3 linked regions of the Homo sapiens genome follow. The protein of the gene in region 1 interacts with the protein of each later gene in a pairwise test. Each region holds a gene or a part of one and is shown in the gene's direction. Other genes may lie near its edges.

What was found.
Region 2: the proteins of PPL (region 1) and HECTD3 interact in binary tests that used the Homo sapiens proteins (3 or more experiments, as listed by UniProt).
Region 3: the proteins of PPL (region 1) and AHCYL1 interact in binary tests that used the Homo sapiens proteins (3 or more experiments, as listed by UniProt).

What each region holds. Positions count from the first base shown.
Region 1 is NC_000016.10:4,885,131-4,892,159, reverse strand, and holds part of PPL (periplakin), read left to right. Parts: coding exon 1-125; intron 126-210; coding exon 211-349; intron 350-1,238; coding exon 1,239-1,432; intron 1,433-1,825; coding exon 1,826-1,976; intron 1,977-3,098; coding exon 3,099-3,182; intron 3,183-3,941; coding exon 3,942-4,058; intron 4,059-4,932; coding exon 4,933-5,025; intron 5,026-6,112; coding exon 6,113-7,029. UniProt on the Homo sapiens protein: Component of the cornified envelope of keratinocytes. May link the cornified envelope to desmosomes and intermediate filaments. May act as a localization signal in PKB/AKT-mediated signaling.
Region 2 is NC_000001.11:45,008,296-45,015,636, reverse strand, and holds the start of HECTD3 (E3 ubiquitin-protein ligase HECTD3), read left to right. Parts: upstream 1-4,312; 5' UTR 4,313-4,379; coding exon 4,380-4,748; intron 4,749-4,930; coding exon 4,931-5,091; intron 5,092-5,343; coding exon 5,344-5,436; intron 5,437-5,515; coding exon 5,516-5,651; intron 5,652-5,953; coding exon 5,954-6,069; intron 6,070-6,154; coding exon 6,155-6,268; intron 6,269-6,410; coding exon 6,411-6,493; intron 6,494-6,935; coding exon 6,936-7,101; intron 7,102-7,315; coding exon 7,316-7,341. Other genes in the region: UROD (uroporphyrinogen decarboxylase), read right to left, coding at 139-300, 631-697, 801-901, 1,061-1,198, 1,567-1,728, 1,846-2,043, 2,283-2,345, 2,422-2,501 and 2 more. UniProt on the Homo sapiens protein: E3 ubiquitin ligases accepts ubiquitin from an E2 ubiquitin-conjugating enzyme in the form of a thioester and then directly transfers the ubiquitin to targeted substrates.
Region 3 is NC_000001.11:110,008,765-110,015,793, forward strand, and holds part of AHCYL1 (S-adenosylhomocysteine hydrolase-like protein 1), read left to right. Parts: intron 1-269; coding exon 270-381; intron 382-2,449; coding exon 2,450-2,593; intron 2,594-3,597; coding exon 3,598-3,698; intron 3,699-4,132; coding exon 4,133-4,235; intron 4,236-5,998; coding exon 5,999-6,093; intron 6,094-6,660; coding exon 6,661-6,767; intron 6,768-7,029. UniProt on the Homo sapiens protein: Multifaceted cellular regulator which coordinates several essential cellular functions including regulation of epithelial HCO3(-) and fluid secretion, mRNA processing and DNA replication.

The sequences.
Region 1 (7,029 bases):
GAGGGCGAAGCCTTCATCCAGGCCCTCCCAGGCAGTGGCACCACACCCCTGCTGAGGACCCGGGTGGAGGACACCAACCGGAAATACGAGCACCTCCTGCAGCTGCTGGACTTGGCCCAGGAGAAGTGGGTGGCAGACAGGCAGCATGGAGGTTGGGGTGGGGTCAGGGGGCCAGGTGGGCATCCCCCGACGCCTGATTGGTGCTCTCAGGGTTGATGTGGCCAACCGCCTGGAGAAGAGCCTGCAGCAGAGCTGGGAGTTGCTGGCCACACACGAGAACCATCTGAATCAGGATGACACAGTGCCTGAGAGCAGCCGTGTCCTGGACAGCAAGGGGCAGGAGCTGGCGGTGAGTCTAGGGCCCAAGTCCTGGGAGTCCTTCTCTGAGCAGGTGAGAGCATCTGGCACATCCACCCGCCCGTCTGGATAGATGAGGACACCAGCATCCAGTCTCCCCAGGTTTGGAATGCCCAAATTGGGAACTGCAAATGGAGGCCCACAGCACAAATCCAAGCTATTCACGGGATCTGTGTGACTTACGGGATTTCGGGTGCCAGCATTTTAAGATCAAATATCTGCAATAGCCAGTGTAGTGGCACATGCCTGTAACACCAGCCATTCAGGAGGCTGGGGCAGGATTGCTTGAGCCTTGGAGTTTAAGTCCAGCCGCCTGGACAACGTTGCAAGACCCTATCTCTTAAAAAAAAAAAAAAAAAAAAAAAAGCATAAAGCACATAACAATCCATGTTCCCAGTATCTCTTGCTGAGCAGAGCTGGCATCCTGGGCTGCAGCTCAGAGGGCAAGTCAGTGGGCAGAGGAGCAGCTGCCTTCTCGGCCTGCTTACCTCGCAGTTGCCACGGGCCCCCTTCCCACACTGCCTGAGCACAGGAAACATTCAAGTCTGTGACCTGAGGCCCCTTATTCACACTCCCATCTCACGACTTGCTTTTGCCACAGCCTCATGACCAGACAGTGGCAGGCTGTTCTCGCGCAGGGCACGAGCTGCCTGCTGCAGGGTTTTTAGAAGTTAGCTTTTCAGGGCTTTGTTCATTGTTAAAAAACAGAAGATGGCAGAAGTGACCCAGGTTTGGGATGTACAGAGCAAGGCTCCGGTCCTTCCTACCTGTGGCCTTGCCCACCCTCCTACAGTCAGTGGCCCAGGGGCTTCAGTGGGTGTCATCGCCTGGCTCTGGGAGCTCTGGCCGTAGCACCGCCGTCTCCTCCTCTGCCCCGCCAGGCCATGGCCTGTGAGTTACAGGCCCAGAAGTCCCTCCTGGGTGAGGTGGAGCAGAACTTGCAGGCGGCCAAGCAGTGCTCGAGCACACTGGCCAGCCGCTTCCAGGAGCACTGTCCGGACCTGGAGCGCCAGGAGGCCGAGGTGCACAAGCTGGGCCAGCGTTTCAACAACCTGCGCCAGCAGGTGGAACGCAGGTGAGGGTGCGGTGGGTGGTGGCCATTTTTGTTTTCTGAGAATGCGATCTAATTCCCTCTAAGCAATGCTTTAGCCGTGTCCCACAGATTTTGCTGTTTTTCTTTTTGGTGAGTTCGTCAGATTCTCTGACGGCCCTGTGGTCTCTCTTTTGAGTCATGCTTACCTGGGTCCTGTAATCCACAATGGGCATCTCTGCAAGTCAATGTATATGGACCCACCTGGTTCTCCACAGTCCAACCTGACGTTCCCTAATGACCACCCACCCTGTGTGGGAGATACTTGGGGTATTTCTGGTTGTTACATTTGGTTGTTTCCCACTTTAAAAAAAAAAATGAGGGCTCGGTGAGGCATCTGTTTGCTGTGGCTGAGGCCTGAACGCTTTGCCTTGACAGGGCGCAGAGCCTACAGAGCGCCAAGGCAGCCTACGAGCACTTCCACCGCGGCCATGACCACGTGCTGCAGTTCCTAGTCAGCATCCCCAGTTACGAGCCCCAGGAGACAGACAGCCTCAGCCAGATGGAGACCAAGCTGAAGAACCAGAAGGTGAGATGGCCGTTTCCGCAGCCCCAGGCACACACTGGCAAGGGAGGGTCAGAGGTCAACAAGCCCCTTTCTGGGGAGCCAAGCCTTTGGGAGGTGGAGCAGGGCAGAGGCCTGCCACAGCTGTGTCCTCCCTGGGCCTCAGCTCAAGCTCCCAACACCCAACCCTCTGAGAACAAGAACCGAGTGTGTCGCTCACCTCTCCCAGCTCAGTGCCCCGCACAGGGCCTGGTGCAGAATGGACACTTGGCGTGGGTTGGCTATGTGAGTGAACAGCTACAGAATGAGGAGCCGCCTTTGTGGGGGAAATCCCATTTTCAAAGTTGGGACTCCTGCCTCCCCCATGCCCAACGCAGTGCCTTGGGGTGAGGGAGGAACACGGGAAGCCAATGGCTGAGATGCAAATCCCGGGTCCACCCCATCAGCCACATCCCCACCTCAGAAGCTTTCCTCACTCATAAGCTGGAGGTCACGATGCTTACCTCCTGGCATCGTTTGAAGATTAAATGAGATAATCTAAGTCAGACAGCAGAACAGTGTCTGGTGGTCCAAATCATCAGTAAACATTTGTTTCCTAGCAGAGATAATGATCTTGGCCCTTCTTCACAGAGCCTTAGAACTGCCTTTTGTGGCTGGGCGCGGTGGCTCACACCTGTAATCCCGGCATTTTGGGAGGCTGAGGCAGGAGGATCACAAGTTCAGGAGTTCAAGACCAGCCTGGCCAACATAATGAAACCAAATCTCTACTAAAAATACAAAAAAAAATTAGCTGGGTATGGTGGCAGGAGCCTGTAGTCCCAGCTACTTGGGAGGCTGAGGCAGGAGAATTGCTTGAACCCAGGAGGCTAAGGCTGCAGTGAGCTGAGATCGCGCCACTGTACTCCAGCCTGGGCGATGCAGTGAGACTGTCTCAAAAAAAAAAAAAAAAAAAAAAAAAAAAAAAAACAACAACAACAAAAAAACTGCCTTTTGCAATGAATAAAAATGTATACAAGGGAGCCATTCATCATACTTTGTGCTAGAGAAGAATAAATTCAGATTCTGAGATTTCCAGCTACTGCATCCATGGTTGCTTTTTTAAATTTTTTTTCTGGTTAGTTTTGATTTTTAAACTCTGTCTTACAGAACCTGCTAGATGAGATAGCAAGTAGGGAGCAGGAAGTACAGAAGATCTGTGCCAATTCCCAGCAGTACCAGCAAGCTGTAAAGGTGAGCCGGGAAACTTCCGCCCAAAGCACAAACAGCAGGGGTCTTATTCCACCGTGCCCTGGTCAGAGAAGCAGCAAGCACCGGCCCTGGCACATGGGGGTGGAGCTGGCCATCCGAGGCACTGCCGGCTGCTGTGCAAACTGGCACAGGCTTTTGGGAAAACAGCATGGTACTAGACATGGAATGCTGTAAAAGGGTTTTATACTCTGAAGCAGTAAACACTTTGGGGGAATTTATCCTTAAGGAAAAAGTACAAAAAAAAAAATGCAGGATAAACAACATTGTTGCAACAGCACTATTTACAATAGCAAAACTAGTACGCTGGAAAGGACTGGTGTCCAGTGGAAGGGGAAAGCTGCGTGAATCAGCACACATCCACCTGATGGATTATAAAGTCAGCAAGCTGGTAAACATGAGAAGAGGTGGTGGCAAGGTGAGACAGGGTTATGGTACGATGTTAAAAGCAGCAGCAGAATGTGAAAATCTCTAGGCATGTAGAAAGGCTGGGAGGGGAATTCAGGGGGCACTTCTTGTCTCATATGTTACTGAGTGATGGAGCTATGTACTGCTGAGATATCAGTAATTCTCAAAACCTCCTGGAAATCACTGCAGGGTGCAGCTGTGAGGAAGACCCACGCAGATTATAAAACCAGCACATGGCACAGGGCAGGTCTGGGTCAGCCTGAAGGGGTACAGGAACATGTCTGTCTCTTCTCAGCTGTTTTAATCTCCCCTCTGCCATGTCTCTCCCTCATGCAGGACTATGAGTTAGAAGCAGAAAAACTAAGGTCTCTTCTCGACTTGGAGAATGGAAGGAGAAGCCACGTGAGCAAGAGAGCCAGGCTCCAATCTCCTGCCACCAAAGTGAAGGAAGAGGTGAGTTCCATGGGCCAGGCGGCCTCGGGACTGAGGTGGAGGCCAAGCTGCCCTGCTCCCCAGGGAGCATGGTGTCACACGCTGGCCTCAGAGATGCACACACAACAGGGAAGCCACTGAGAGCCCTCCTGCATGCAAACAGGTTTGGTAAGAGATGAGGAACTTGTTCTAGGGCAGTGACATCAATATGCCTAGAAAGACAGCAAGGCCGGGCGCAGTGGCTCACACCTGTAATCCTAGCACTTTGGGAGGCCGAGGTGGGAGAACTGCTTGAGCCCAGGGGTTGGAGACCAGCCTGGGCAACAAAGCAGGACCCCATATCTACAAAAATATTAGCCAGGCGTGGTGGTGCAAACCTGTAGTCCCAGCTACTTGGGAGGTTGAGGAGGGAGGATCACTTGGGCCCAGGAGTTCAAGGCTGCAGTGAGCTACAATCACACCATGGCACTTCAGTCTGAGTGAAAGAGATTCTGTCTTTAAGAAATAAAAATTTTTGAAAATGCAGCTGAACAGAAGTGTCAGGGTCAGAACCATGGATCTGGGAAGTTCCTGTTTTGCTCACCTCAGTAAGTACAGTGGAGGGCTGATATTAGTCTCCTGTACACACAAGAGAGAACACTGGTGCTCTAAGAGGCAGAAAGACTTGCTCAAAGTCAGTGTGGCCAAGACCCTGGCCTGGATCTTCTGCCTCGAGATCCATTTTTCTCTCCACCGGTGAGGCTACAGTCTAACTCCAGGCAGGAGTGGGCAAGAGCTATGCCTCTACCCCCAAATTCCACACTTCTCAAGAACCACGTCCACGCTGTCTAGCTCTCTGTTGCTTACCCTGTTGACACCTGTTTGTTGACCGCTCTCCTAATCCTCTTCTCTGCAGGAAGCAGCACTTGCCGCCAAGTTCACTGAAGTTTATGCCATCAACAGACAGAGGCTGCAGAATCTGGAGTTTGCTCTGAATCTCCTCAGACAGGTAACTGATCTTAGTAAGAAATTCTACTTCAGGCTGTTCTAACAGGTGACAAATACAGACTCTGTCTTAGAGAAATGGTTTGTGAATTGATGGAAGTGTCCCCTTGCTAACGTTTCTGGGCAGGGCCAATGCAAAGACTGGCCCGAGCCAATGCTTCTACTGACATGAGAACTTATTCAACTCAGTAAACATCTGCTGAAAGTGAATGCTATTTTCAGCTGGGCATGGTGGCTCACGCTTGTAATCCCAGCACTTTGGGAGGCCGAGGCAGGCGGATCACCTGAGGTCAGGAGTTCGAGACCAGCCTGGCCAACATGGTAAAACTCCGTCTCTACTAAAAATACAAAAATTAGCTGGGCGTCGTGGCGCATGCTTGTAATCCCAGCTACTCAGGAGACTGAGGCAGGAGAATTGCTTGAACCCAGGAGGTGGAGGTTGCAGGGAGCTGAGACTGTGCCACTGCACTCCAGCCTGGGCAACAGAGCGAGACTCTGTCTCAGAAAAAAAGAAAGAAACAAAAGAAAGTGAATGTTATTTTCTGAAGTCCATGATGTTGATGACAGCATTGTTTTTTAATAGCAAGACACTGGAAGCAGTTCACTCTTCATCAGCAATGGGCTAAACTGCGGTCTGTCCAGAGAGCGGAAACAATGCTGCTGGTAAATCCTGAAGCAGCACTCTCTGTGCTGAGCTGGAATGAGCTCTGTAAGTGCAGTGAGCAGCAGGAATACCATTTGTGCAGGAGAGATAAACACATGGTACATACTACAGACAGATATTCTTGTGTGAGCACAGATAGCATCTGCAAGGCTGACAGACACGCCCTAGGACGGGGACCAGAGGTGGGAGACCGTGGTTTCATTTTAAACTCTTCCACAGCTCAAAAATGTTTTACCTGATTAAAAAAAACCCCAAACTAGTTGTTTGATCCTTTTTGAAAGTAACCCTAGAACTCTACAACTAACATGAACTGGCACTGAGGGAGTCCCTTGGGGACCACAGGACAGCCACTCTGACCAGGTGGGGACAGGCCCTACATGTGCTGCCAGAGCCTGGCTTTAACCTTGTCTTGTCTTCTCCATCACAGCAGCCGGAAGTAGAAGTGACCCATGAGACCCTGCAAAGGAATAGGCCGGACTCTGGAGTGGAGGAGGCGTGGAAGATCAGGAAGGAACTGGATGAGGAGACTGAGCGGAGGCGGCAGCTGGAGAACGAGGTCAAGAGCACCCAGGAAGAAATCTGGACCTTGAGGAATCAGGGGCCTCAGGAATCGGTGGTGAGGAAGGAGGTGCTCAAGAAGGTGCCGGATCCCGTGCTGGAGGAGAGCTTCCAGCAGCTGCAGCGGACGCTGGCAGAGGAGCAGCACAAGAACCAGCTGCTGCAGGAGGAGCTGGAGGCACTGCAGCTGCAGCTGCGTGCCCTGGAGCAGGAGACCAGAGACGGGGGGCAGGAGTACGTGGTCAAGGAGGTCCTGCGCATCGAGCCTGACAGGGCCCAGGCGGATGAGGTCTTGCAGCTGCGGGAGGAGCTGGAGGCACTGAGGCGGCAGAAGGGCGCCCGGGAGGCAGAGGTGCTCCTCCTGCAGCAGCGTGTGGCCGCCCTGGCTGAAGAGAAGAGCCGGGCGCAGGAGAAGGTCACAGAGAAAGAGGTGGTGAAACTGCAGAATGACCCCCAGCTGGAGGCAGAGTACCAGCAGCTGCAGGAGGACCACCAGCGCCAGGACCAGCTCAGGGAGAAGCAGGAGGAGGAGCTGAGCTTCCTCCAGGACAAGCTCAAGAGGCTAGAGAAGGAGCGGGCCATGGCCGAGGGCAAGATCACCGTCAAGGAGGTGCTCAAGGTGGAGAAGGACGCGGCCACCGAGAGGGAGGTCAGCGATCTCACCCGCCAATATGAGGACGAGGCTGCCAAGGCTCGCGCTAGCCAGAGGGAGAAGACGGAGCTGCTCCGAAAGATATGGGCCTTGGAGGAGGAGAACGCCAAAGTGGTGGTGCAGGAGAAGGTGCG
Region 2 (7,341 bases), on another chromosome or scaffold:
CAGAGGCTAAGAAGAACTGAGGATATGGGCACAATCTTTCACAAACAAAACTACACAATAGTTCAACTCCGAAACTTTTATTGTCCTGGAAACGATCAATCATCTGTGTTAGTGGTACTTGAGGGTAAAGGTATACACTCAGTTCTGTCGAAGCAGACGTGAGTGTTTATGCACAGCATCCACAAAGGCGCCCACATGTTCTGGGTCCATGTCAGGATAAAGCCCATGGCCCAGGTTGGCAATGTAGCGATGTGGTCCAAAGTCATCCAGCATCTGCTTCACCAACTGCCCGATCTCCTCCTGGGGGACCAACAGGGCACTGGCTACAGGAGGACCAGCAAGCCTTTGTCCTCCCTATATATACTAGTGACAAACGCATATGTAGGCATGCTTCTACTCAGTGTTATTCAGTCATTCAATAAAATTTATCAGATCCCTAGTATGGACCCAGGCATGAAGCATAAACACAAATGAACAACAGCAACAAAAAGTCCGGTCTTTCTAGGGCTTATGTTGTACAGAGTAGAAGAAAAGGACAGACAGACATTAAAAACAAGTGCACACAGAATAATACAGCCACAGCCACAGGAGTGCACAGTAACAGACACACAGAGGGGCCCTGGCTGTTACCTCAGATGCATACAAGGCACAGGGGTCCAGGTTGCCCTGCAATGTCACCGTCTTCCCCACACACTCCCTGGAAGCAAAGCCAGCGCCACGTTCTGGTAACTGCATACATGGCAGCTCCCCCAGCCAACACCCCCACCTCAACCTCAAGGCCTCACCCTTCCATGGCTTACCGGGCTTTCTTTGGGGCCACTGTCCAGTCAAGCCCAACCACCTCATAGCCAGCTTGGGCCAGCTCCTCCAGGGCAAAATGCCCATCCTTAGCAAAGATGATCTAGAAAAAAGCAGATCTCAGGCTACAGAGGGCCTTGCTACAACCACTAATCTTTCTTGACTGTACTTCTGCTGCCCTCCAGTGGTCACTCCAGTCCATGCAGGACTTAGCCTGAAAGCTCCACAGGACCACCTTCACTCAACCCATCCCAATCCTCACCATGGGCACTGGTGCCAGGCCTGCCTCCCGCAACCTGGCCTTCACTTGCTTGGCCACATCACGGATGTAAGGCAGTGCAAACTTGTTGAAGAGCTGTGGGCCAAGATGCCCTGCATGGGACTCAAACAGCTGCAATGCCTAGTTAGGGTATGGTGAAGAAAAATATGTAACACACAAAGAGGAAGTTTCCCCCACATACAAAATCCACCTCAATTTTCCCCAAATGACTTCAATCCCTGATACTGCCTGACCCTAAAAACCCAGTAATTAAAAAAAAAAAAATTTACTTTCCTCAGATCCCAGCACTAACTTTGGTGTCTGAATACTTAGAGCATTAAGCCCCACTGTCAGTGTCAGGATGGGCTTGGCTGCTCCGCTAGATCACTGGAGGCCAAGGTTCTTTCATCCCTGGCATTAAGACCCCTGCCCTCTCAGGTTTAGGACACTCTTGCTTCTGGTCCTTACAGACCAAATCCCAGCCTATTTCTCTCTCTCTCAGGACTCACCTGGGCACCAGCCACCACTTGTCCTACCAGATATGGGACCAGAGCATCAGTGAGGATGCGAAGCAGCTGGTGACTAGCCTGAGGTCTCTGATAGAGCCAGCGCTTGGCCTGAGCCATGGTGCTTGAGCCACCACCCTCAACCATGTATGTCATCAGGGTCCACTAGAGAAGGATAGAAAGATGGTGTCACAGAAGCCAGACTGACCCTTCCTTTTGTCTACCCCAGACCTTCCAGAGTGATCTCCCCGCGCCCCGAGTCCCTGCCCTGTCCCACATTACTGGGGCACCAGCAAAGCCAATCAGCGGCACACGTCCAGCCAGTCGTTGTCGGGTAAGGGTGATGGCTTGGAACACATAGCCTAGCTCAGAGGCTACCACTTCTGGATCCCGTAGGCGTTCTAGGTCCTGCTCTTCTCTTAATGGCTCTGGGAAGCTGGGTCCTTTGCCAGGTACCATGGTCACCTCCATGCCCAGTGCCTGGAGGGGGAGAAAACATCTGGGTTCCCAAAATGGAATCCAGGAGGAAAGGTTCTGTTCAGCTCATTCCAGGAGGAAGGAAAAGGAGAATAAAACTCTGCCAAACTCCATTTCTTTCAACCTTAGTTTTTCCCTCGATCCAGTTAGGATAAGTGCTTATTGTAAACCTTGACTGGACTGATAGAAGGATTTTCAAGGCGTCCTTGGATTATATTCTAGGATCAGGTTTGAGTGGGTACCTGGGGTACAACAAGGATGTCGGAGAAAATGATGGCAGCATCCAGAGGGAAGCGACGCAGTGGCTGTAGGAAACAGGAGACAGGTTGCTAGGTGGCAGACTGAAGGCATAAATCTTTCCCTCTTTTGTGGACCCCTCACCTGCAGAGTCAGTTCACAGCAGGCCTCAGGAGAGCGACACGTGCTGAAAAAGTCCTGGGCAGCCCGGGTTTCCCTAAACTCTGCATACAGAGGGAAGACAGGGCTCAGCCTTGAGGCCCTCCAGAGCCCTCCCCTGCCCCTCGAAAACTTTTCTCCCTCCGGAGTTTTATCTAGATTTCCAGACCCTGACTCTTACCTGGTAAGTAACGGCCTGCCTGGCGCATGCACCAAACGGGAGTGTAGTCTGTTTCCTCTCCCCAGGCTGCTCGCAGGAATGTGTCATTCTTCAGCTCCGGAAAACCCTGAGGTCTGGCGATCAGGTGGGGGTGGGGGTAGGTGTCAGTATGCTACGCTGGAGGCTGGGGAAAGCGCGGGTTCATAAGGCCGATTCAGTCCAGGACCGCTATCTACCTCCTCCAGGCCAGCTCCCAAACCCTGGCTTTCCGCCCGTTCCGCCTCCTCTCTGCCTATCAGGTGGTGCACAAACTCCAGAAGGGCCCGCCCTGGGGCCTCTTCCCTCCACTTAGTCTCTACTCTTCCAAGCTCGAAGCAACCAGAGGGACTGGGGGGAGGGAATGAAGGCCCACTAAGGATAGTTTGGGGGTCTTCGAACTAGTGAGCCTCAGAAACGGGAATGTCACTGGGCTGGTTCAGGGGCTGAGAAATACCCAGGCTGGGGGATAAAGAGGGATCAGAGTTGATGGTCCCAGAATAGAGATCCTGGTTGGAAATCCTGAGGCATCCCTTGAATTAAGGCCCTGGGATGAACATCTCAAAAATCCATGGTTTTAGGATTCAGGATCCCAGCTAACGGAGTTCAGGTTGGGAGGTCTCCAGGGTGGGGAAAGGGGAGTAGAGGGATAGAGTCCTGAGTTGGAAGACTCAAATTAGAAGCCCGGCTAGCCACACCGCGTGCTCTGGAGAACTCACCCCAACCCATTCGCTTCCATGGTCAGCTGTCTGTAACTGCGAGCTCAATCCACAATTTAACCTGAATCTGAGCCTGCCCCCCAGTCCAGGCTCCGCCCCTTTCTGTAGGGAACCAAGAGCGTCGCCATGTTGAAGATCACATGATCGGACTCCAGCGACAGCTCCAGGGCTGCCCTGGCTGCTGCCCGTAGGACCCCTACCTTTTTTCACCGTAAAGTTTGCTGTAGCGACGCAACAACAAAGGCCCAAAAGAAAACTCCGCTGTAAATGTATCTTACGGTGACATGAGGAATTTGTTCTCATCTGACAGTCTGGGTATCCGGAGGCTTGGCGCAAGTCCCACTCATGATACCAACAGTCTTATCCAGCCAGGTCCATACTATAGCCTGGACCTATAGTAGGTGCAGAGGTTAGCTCTGCTCAAGACAGCCCCAGCCTTTAAGGAGCTACAAGACTGGGGAAACAGAAATCAGCAATCACATTAAAATGAATAATGATCTCCAGTGTCCTTGGGATTAGGAGTGACAAACAGAATCAACCCTAATGACTCAAGACTCCTGTCAGTGGCAGGGGAAGGGGCCATTGTCTCAAACACTTTAATCACACCACCCATAGGATAGGGAGTCCAGCAGATTCGCTGGGAGTGGGAGGAAAAACAGCAGGCCGAAGAACCAGAAAAATGACTGTTGGCAATGACCCAGGCTAGCTAGAATGGTGACTTGAATGAGGGTAGTAGCAGTAGAGATAAAATGGTAGTCACAAGGAAATGGAGAGAGGGAGATTGATCAGGTAGCAATCACCAATCTTGGGTTTGGTCGGCTGGGTTAGGGTGGCACAGAGATAAGTAATATGGTTGAGTGTGGGAGTACACAGTCCAATACAGTGAGAGCTGGGGTGCGCTTAGTCCAGAACATACGGCAAAGGCTGGCCAAAGGCGGGGAAGGGCGTGGTGGGAAGCTCTGTCCGCGGTCGCGCCAGCTGTTCCCCGGGCAGGGTCGCCTCTAGGTGCTCACCTCCGCCACTTCGCCATGGCGGGTCCTGGCCCGGGCGCGGTGCTGGAGTCCCCCCGGCAGCTGCTGGGCCGCGTGCGCTTCTTGGCAGAGGCAGCGCGGAGCCTCCGCGCCGGGCGGCCGCTGCCAGCAGCGCTGGCTTTCGTGCCGCGAGAGGTGCTCTACAAGCTTTACAAGGACCCAGCGGGACCGTCGCGCGTGCTTCTGCCGGTGTGGGAGGCAGAGGGCCTGGGGCTGCGTGTGGGCGCCGCAGGCCCAGCCCCCGGTACCGGCTCCGGGCCCCTCCGCGCCGCCCGCGACAGCATTGAGCTCCGGCGCGGCGCCTGCGTGCGCACCACGGGCGAGGAGCTGTGCAATGGCCACGGGCTCTGGGTGAAGCTGACAAAGGTGCGCTCTTCCCTGCCCAGGACCCGGTAAAAGACCCCTGGGGCCAGAGAAACCTCTGGCTGTTTGCCTTTTCTCCCCTGTATTGAGTTGGCATTGCGTTCGGCGCCCTTTGCCCTGGGCTGGGCACGACAGGCGGCTGGGCAGTTCCCTGACGGCTGTCCCCATCCTACGCGTCCCGGCAGGAGCAGCTGGCAGAGCACCTGGGCGACTGCGGGCTGCAGGAAGGCTGGCTGCTGGTGTGCCGCCCGGCGGAGGGCGGAGCCCGCCTGGTACCCATCGACACTCCCAACCACCTCCAGCGGCAGCAGCAGCTCTTTGGCGTGGATTATCGGCCGGTGCTCAGGTACTGCACTTGAAGGAGCGGGGCTGGCTGTCAGAAGGCCGGGCCAGGAGGGCTTGGGAACACTTCAGCCACAGCCTGGGGTGGGTGGGATACTGGAGCGGAGGCAGGGTTAAGAGCAGAAAGGGGCGGGACGTGAAGGGGGCTCGGAGGGAGACTGGGAGATAGAGCCCTGAAGAAGGCTACACGGCATGGAGGTAGTGTCTTGCTGACCGCTGATGTCTCCCCATCCCACTCCCTACTCTGTGCCCACAGGTGGGAACAGGTGGTGGACCTGACATACTCACATCGCCTGGGATCGAGACCTCAGCCGGCAGAGGCATACGCAGAAGCTGTACAAAGGCTACTGTGAGTGAGCTGGAATGGGGTGGGGAGGAAGGAGCTCTGCGTCTGGGCCCAGTCTAATTAGGGGCTTGGGGTTGCTTAGCTATGTACCCCCGACATGGACCTACGAGTGCGACGAGGACCTGATCCACTTCTTGTATGACCACCTGGGCAAGGAGGATGAGAACCTGGGTAGCGTGAAGCAGTATGTGGAGAGCATAGACGTTTCCTCCTACACGGTGGGTGCTGGGGCTCCTCCCACCCCAGGCAAGATATAGTCACACCCCTCAAGGCTAGATCCAGAAAGAACCCCCACCTGCAGGCCAGGACTAAAACAGGGTCCCCACAGGCCACACTCAGTTCAGCTCCCCATCTTGGACGTCTATAGGACCCCTTACATACCCAGCGGCCCCCTATCCCATACCAGTTGCCTGTTAGCCCAACTTCACTATGCTTTCTCTCTGGTGCTCCTGGCCCAGAGCACAAGCCCAGTGCAGGGAGGGAGGGTAACTGCTGACTTCACGTCTCTGCCCCTCCCCAGGAGGAGTTCAACGTGTCCTGCCTGACAGACAGCAATGCCGATACCTACTGGGAGAGCGATGGGTCCCAGTGCCAACACTGGGTACGGCTTACTATGAAGAAGGGCACCATTGTCAAGTAAGTAGGCTCTGGGCAGGACAGGGTGGGTGGGCTATGTCCCTGTGGGTTCACAAAGACTCATATTCACACTCTGACCCTTCAGGAAGCTGCTACTCACAGTGGATACCACAGATGACAACTTTATGCCAAAGCGGGTGGTGGTCTATGGGGGTGAAGGGGACAACCTGAAGAAGCTGAGTGACGTGAGCATTGACGAGTGAGCACGCTGGCCTGGGGAGGGAAGTAGGGCATGTTCCAAGCCTAGCCCAGCTTGAAAGCCTAAGTTTGAGTGAGACTCCAGCAGTCTCTGAAGGCCTGAGGCAGGAGGTATCTGAAGTGCTTCACACTCATCTCCTCAGGACCCTCATCGGGGATGTCTGTGTCCTGGAGGACATGACCGTCCACCTCCCGATCATCGAGATCCGCATCGTGGAGTGCCGAGGTGAGGTTTAAGGCTATAAGGAGGGAAAGAGAGCCCGGCGTGGAGATGGGGGCAAACAGAGAGTGTGTGTGGAGAGAAGAGGATGGGCTTGGAGTTGGGGTGAAGGCGATGCTGAACTAACTCCAGGATTTGGAGCTTTGGGGCCTGAGCCAGCTGGGACATGCCAGGTATAGGCCTGCCTTAAAGCCATACAGGTGGTTGGGCTCACCTGGAAGAGGAACTGAGTTGGGACCCTCAGGCATCCCAGCATTCTAGTGGAAGACAGAGGAATCAGCAGGAATAGATCAATCAGAATCAGGTGATAGAAGGTGATCCCGAAGGTCCCGAGTTTCTAGGGGCTAACGGTGACACAAGGCTGAGCGTTCAAGGAGCCGGTCCCAGGTCTGAGGGCCAAGGAGGCAGCAGGTGCTGTAAATGACCTTACTCTGACCCCTTCCCCCAGATGATGGGATTGATGTTCGTCTCCGAGGGGTCAAGATCAAGTCATCTAGACAGCGGGAACTAGGGTTGAATGCAGACCTGTTCCAGCCAACTAGTCTGGTGCGATATCCACGCCTAGAAGGCACCGACCCTGAAGTACTGTACCGCAGAGCTGTCCTCCTGCAGAGGTGGCTGTGGTCCTGGACCTATGGGCCCTTCCCTTCCCCCAACATTGAGCCTTGTGTGTCTGCATGGAGGAGGTTCCCAAGGTCTCATAGTATAAGCTGTTCAAGGGTCAGAGAAGCCCCCAGGTCCTGCCTTTTCCTGTCCCTTTATGTTGGGGAGTTGGGGGTGTTACAGGTATGCTAAACTCTTTAGCTGCAGTCTATCTACCCATGCCAGATTCATCAAGATCCTCGATAGTGTCC
Region 3 (7,029 bases), on another chromosome or scaffold:
ATTGAACATATACTAAACGAAATTGGTTCTTAACCTTAGCCCCTCCTCCCAAATCCTGCAGAAACAATTGGGAAGAGACAGTGATTGACGTGTTGGGAGAAGTCAGAGAGTAGCCTCGGCCTTCCCCCATTTCTGGTGGGAAAGTTGCTGGCTTAGTAGGAACCATGTGATTACATGGCTTTTAGGGAAAGACAATGTATCCTTAAAAAAAAAAACATTTCATGGATTTTCCTTATAAGTTTTCAACTTTTTGTCTTCCTTTTGTATAGCAAATCCAGTTTGCTGATGACATGCAGGAGTTCACCAAATTCCCCACCAAAACTGGCCGAAGATCTTTGTCTCGCTCGATCTCACAGTCCTCCACTGACAGCTACAGTTCAGGTAGGTGTGAATGAACTCCATGTCCTCTCTAATCTCTCTTCCCTGTTTGCTACCAGTGCTCTTCACTTAGCAATCTGAAAATACCTCATGTTATGACTGCCCACCTTTGTGCTGAAAACTGTTAGTGGCTGGGCAGTGGGAATGTTCTGCAGCCAAGCTAGTAGCTGGGGAAGCTTTTGTCGACTCGAGACTTTCTTCCCCCTGGCTGTCTGTGTGTGTGGTCTGTGGCCAGTGCCCAGTTGGTAGGACTGGGCTAGTTCCCATTCCCACATTGATCCGCCCATTTCAAAAGGAAGAAATCAATGCTATTTTGGCTGACAGAATTGGACTTAAAAAAGAAGTGCATTTTGAAGCACGATTTCTTTGTGTAAAATATACCCTGTCACCTATCTCTTTCTTTCTTGTCTCCAAGACTGCTTAGATTGTAACAATAAAATTAGTATTTTGGCTTCTCTTATTTATTAGGTTATTCTTTCTGTTGGAATATCCTCCCCTGTTAGACTCTGGAGCAGGAAAGATTCAGACTACTGTAATGTAACTCCAGCTCTGTTTCTTTTTAGTTCTCTCCTCCTGTCTTAACTCTCTGTAAATAAAGTCTTTTTCTGTTTTGTATTGTGTCTTTCCCAACTATAGAGCATGTATTAGAAAATTAGCATGGAAAAGAATATAGAATCTTGGCAGATGAATACAGGAGAAAACATTAGGGACATCTAATGGGGCATCCAATACAACCTTGTCATTGTTTAACTGAAGACTCATTGTTAAAAGATTAAGAGGTTACAGATTGCTATTAATGTCAGCAGAGATATTTGTACCAAAAGCCATTCATTGTCCTTTGCCAGAATACCTTTTGCATTGTATTATCAACATTAAGGATTAACATAAATGAAAAGCTGTTATATATGATCCTGGAGTGACAGATAAAAAGTGGTGTGTGACAAGCAGGCTAACTGTAGCCAAGAAAGAAGAAAAATTAATTGTGAAAAATTGAGTTATGAGAGGAAGAACGATAAAACGACTGAAGAAGGCTTTTAAAAAGTCTTCAAAGATCTTGACGGCCATGTTACAGAAATGTATTAGAGCCTTTTAAAAAGCTTAGTGATATGGTTAAAATGTCATAGTGGGGAAGATAATCTTTAGTAGTATTTGTGTTAGCTGGACAGGAGGAGGACCTGTACATAGAAGTCAGTCAGTGAGAGAGTCCAGGTATACTAGCAGAAACCGTGATGAGGAAAGTACTCAATTCAGAGAGGAAAGAAGTGATTTGAGAGGTAAGGAATGATTGTTGTATATCCTCTTGCATATCTGTCAGATAAGTGGTATTTTTAGCTTTTATGTGAAACCACTTTTTAAAGTTGATCATTTTGACAGACTTTCCCAGGGCTATCAGTAGAACCAGAGCTGTTTGCCTTTTGTGCCATTTCTTTCTTTCTCTATTCCTTGAGCACAACTTAGTGTAAAATCCCTTGTAAGACTATCTTATCACTTTTGTCTATATCCATGGTTCTCAAAGTGTGATCCTCTGACTAGCAGCATCAGCAACACCTGGTAACTTGTTGGAACTACTAATGCTTAGGTGCCACTCCATACCTGCCAGATGGGAAACTGGCCACAGGGTCTAGCAATATATGTTTTAACAAACCTTCCATGTGATCCTGATAGATGCTTGAATTTGAGAACCAGTGATCTATAGAAATAGCATTCCTTATCTGCCCTAAATTATTCTTCTGTTTTTGCCAGGTCTGGTTCCAATCCAGATGGGACCAAGTACCTCTATTATCTGGGATTACTATAGCTGCAGGTTTATAATCAGTGGTCCCTTGTCATAGGCACTAATAGCACAGTATTGTTAGGGTGGGTGAAAGAGCTGCAACATGGAAGTACCCACAACAGTTTCATTCATACCACCTATTAGAACCTAGAGGAGCAGAACTGAGAGCGTTGTAAAAGGTAGCTCCAATTAAGGGTGTTCCCTTAACTTAAATGAAAGTCCCTTGGGGACTGCACTCTGTAGAGTTGGGGACCACTGAGGTTTTTCTATCCTTGTTTTTTTCTTTCCTGGCTCTAGCTGCATCCTACACAGATAGCTCTGATGATGAGGTTTCTCCCCGAGAGAAGCAGCAAACCAACTCCAAGGGCAGCAGCAATTTCTGTGTGAAGAACATCAAGCAGGCAGAATTTGGACGCCGGGAGATTGAGATTGCAGAGCAAGGTAAAGAAAGGGAGTGGGTTAGGGGACCAGAAACAACCCTCTTGTTGGCCATCAGAATCCACAAACAACTTAAGACTTGAAAGCTGACTTGAAAGTGTACTGGGAAGAAAGACAGTATTATGGACTTTCGGATAAACACTTCTCTCTCTATGGAACTTAAGTCTTGGGATTTTGTTCTCTCTTCCTTCTGTTCTCAGCATGTGGTGATTACACACAGAGTAGTTTCTGTTTTCCTCCTTGCCCCACCCCACCACTGTATTCAAAGATCTACATGGCAGAATTGACAAGTCCTAGATCACTACGTGGTAGTTGGTTATATGGGATCTTACTATAGCTGCCAATGGCAGAGACCCAGATTGCCCAGAAGCAGCTGATGAGGAAGGGTTTTAAGGTAAGGATGTGGTGACCTAGAGTCTTGTTTGGTCCTGAGCACCCTCTGCTGGAGCAGAGTAAAAGTGACTGACAGTTAAATCTTGGTTTCTCTACCCCAGCCACTCCCAGTAAGGTCCTCTTTACTCTTGTGTTGTTTACACATTGAAGGCATGTTCTATACTGAGAGAGAATAGAGAAACCAAACAGACTGACAGGACATGGTAAGACAGCATAGAAAAACAGAAGTTAGTGGTTTCGGCTGAGGGTACAGTCTTTCTGGTCTGATGATTATATATAGGAATCTATTAGCCAATGCCTTAACTATTTTCCTCTCTTCCCAAATGAATGATGAGACTCACCCTTCATTTTGATCAGTTTTAAGGATTTACTTCATTCTCTGTTCAGTCCTCTGTGTATAAAGCTGAAGCAGTAGAGGAAGAGAGAAACTCCAAGTGGTTGCATGACTGCTCTCCACTATTACTGTGCCGTTGAAGCTGCCAGTCGTCATGGAAATAGGCTTAAAGTTTTTCTGCCTCATCTCACCATATCTCAACAGATCCAGACCAGCCCTGGGGCAGGAACTGATGATACTGCTAGTGCAGACCTAGCTCAAATCCTCTGTTCTTTCACAGACATGTCTGCTCTGATTTCACTCAGGAAACGTGCTCAGGGGGAGAAGCCCTTGGCTGGTGCTAAAATAGTGGGCTGTACACACATCACAGCCCAGACAGCGGTGAGTTTGTTGGAAGAAAAGAGGGACTTCTGATAAGGGGAAGAAAGAAATCAATTTTTTTTTTTTCACTTTTCCTTTCCTAACTCGCCAACCTCCAAATGCTAACTATTAATAGGATCTCCCTGTTACACAATAATGGGGTTTTCTGGGTTTTTTTTTAATATGTAAACCCACTTTCAGCAAACTTGACCTAGGAAAGTCTAGATTTGCAAACATATGATTGTTATAAAATGTTATAAAGACTTTTAGAAACCTATGTTTTATGCAAAGTTAAATACCAGTGCACCACCTCGCTGGAGTACACCCTTTTGTAACTTTCCAGTGTAGCACCTGTTGGTGCAGAGTTGATAGGTATTGCTATCTTGATGAGGCTTGCTCTCCATTCCTGGGTGGCCCTTCTCTTCCTCACCCTGTCTTCCTACACTTCTACACAGGTGTTGATTGAGACACTCTGTGCCCTGGGGGCTCAGTGCCGCTGGTCTGCTTGTAACATCTACTCAACTCAGAATGAAGTAGCTGCAGCACTGGCTGAGGCTGGTAAGTTCGGTTTTTTCCCACCAACTTTGCCCCAAAATAGTTATCCAAACATATAACTTTTTTGTATCAAAATTGTCATTACAATATCATATATGTCTAGAGGCTATAAAATTGTGCATGATAAAAACCTCAACAGGAAGAAAGTGGATAATAAAATTAAGATGGATATCCATGGTGGAATATTATGTAGTCATTAAAAATGGCCTTTGAAAATAATCTAATGGCATGGGGTCATGCCCAGTTCTAGTGTTAGTTGAACGAGGAAGAATGTTAAACTATATAAGTGCCATCAATTTTGTGAGAGAGCACAAGTAAGAAGTACCTTTCATATTGATAGTGCATTAAATAATTTGGTATTCAGTATGGCATTGAAAATATATGAGCTATTTGTGAGTTTAATTAAACGTAAAATAATTTTTTATTATTCAGGCCAGGCCTGGTGGCCCACGCCTATAATCCCAGCACTTTGGGAGGCCGAGGCGGGCAGATCACTTGAGGCCAAGAGTTCAAGAACGGTCTGGCCAACATGGTGAAACCCCACCTCTACTAAAAATACAAAAGTTAGCCGGGAGTGGTGGTGTGCGCCTGTAATCTCAGCTACTCAGGAGGCTGAGGTAGGAGAACCACTTGAACCTGGGAGGCAGAGGCTGCAGTGAGCCGAGATCATGCCACTGCACTGCAGCCTGGGCGACAGAGTGAAACTCCATCTCAAAAATTAATAACAATAATAATAATTTTTATTATTCAAATATTCAGAAGAAAATCACCGTGAAGTTTCTTTGAGGACCTCTCATCTTTCTTTCTTTTTTTTTTTTTCTTAAGATGGAGTCTTACTCTGTTGCCCAGGCTGGAGTGCAATGGCGCAGTCTCGGCTCACTGCAACCCCTGCCTCCTGGGTTCAAGTGATTCTCATGCCTCAGCCTCCTGAGTAGCTGGGATTGCAGTGGCATGCCACCACACCCAGCTAATTTTTGTATTTTTAGTAGAGATGGGGTTTCACCATGTTGGCCAGGCTGGTCTCGAACTCCTGACCTCAAGTGATCTGCCTGCCTTGGCCTCCCAAAGTGCTGGGATTACAGGCGTGAGACACCACACCCAGCCGGACCTCTCATCTTTTTAAGATCCTCAGAAAGCAACTTTATAATACTTTTGGGTTTTTTTGTTTATTCTTTTCTGATAAGTGTTCACTGCAAAAAATTTAGGAAGTTCCCCAAAACCCTACAATCCCACTACATAGAGTATTTGATTAATGTTTTTCCTTTTCCTTTCTTCTACTTTACATAAATTCTAATATGTATACAGTTTTATAACCTAAATACAATATTTTCAGACGTAGTTTTCCATGTCACTGAAAACTTTGACAGCATCATTTGTAATAGTCATTCATATGGCTATGTGATTTCACCTCACTATTTTCCTAATGGAGAACATTTAGGTTGTTTCAAGATGTTTACTAATATCAATAATGCTCCAGTTAACAACTTTTATTAATTCCCACTTCATTTTATCTCCTTCTAAGTATAAAATTAGTCCAGAGAAAGGAACACTTTAAGGTTCCAAACTACTTTTAAAGCAAAAATTCCTTAATTTCTTAACCTAATTAATTTCTGAACCAAAAGTGATTCTTTGACTTTTGGCTCTGAATTTTTTCCCTTCTGAAATTGTTTCTTTTGCCTTTTTCTCTTCACATGGATCTCAGAAAGTGATTTGGTACAGGACACTCCTCAAAGGAGGAATCAGCTGATTCATTTCTGTCTCTACAGGAGTTGCAGTGTTCGCTTGGAAGGGCGAGTCAGAAGATGACTTCTGGTGGTGTATTGACCGCTGTGTGAACATGGATGGGTGGCAGGCCAACATGGTAATAATGCATATACATCCTACACTTTGACAATAGATTTATTTCCTTTTTTTCCCTCAAAGCATGGTTCCCTAAATATGTTTTGGATGTTTGGTCTTATGCACTGACTTTGTTGCTAAAGTGTTTAGCTTGATACCTATTCAGAATGGGTCTGAGTACTGAATGGAAAGGTGGGGGAAGGGTAAGACTAGCTGAACACATGGCTCAAACACACCAGAACAAAATAGTGGTGCTTCTTTGGAGTAGGATTCTGCTTTCTTTCCTTCCTGCCCCAGTTCTCCTTTTGCATTCAAAGGGGCTATATATTTCAAGACTCTAGACTAAAAATGAGTCTGTGATTAGCTTAATACTCATCACTGTAGCCTAAAGCAAACCTAGGAATCCTTTTAACCATTTTACACCAACAAATTTGACTGTATTTCCACTCTCTAAGCCTGCTCTAGGGAGCTCTGAGGAGTACTCTTCCAAAACATACAGGGCTCTCTTACTAGTACAGAAAGTGGGTTCAAAGTTCCCCCCAGCCCTAGCAGCCTGAATGCCCATAGAAGTCTTCTGGCTGTTCTATAGATCCTGGATGATGGGGGAGACTTAACCCACTGGGTTTATAAGAAGTATCCAAACGTGTTTAAGAAGATCCGAGGCATTGTGGAAGAGAGCGTGACTGGTGTTCACAGGTAACAGATTCTGGAGTAGCTGCCCCTTGTGTCCTTGCCTCAGCAAACTCTCCTGGTCTCTGTTAGGCTTTAGGACTGTGTTTCAGACTTATAACTAAATGGGAATATCTTCATTAGATAAAATTTTGAGTTTTTACTTTTGAAAAATCAAGTTGATCCTAGAAGGAAGTTATTTCAGGTTCTAGTTCATACATTTTTCTCTCCCATTTACTCCATTGAGTGATTCTCAACTAGTGTTGAGGGGCGGGTAGGGAATAAATGT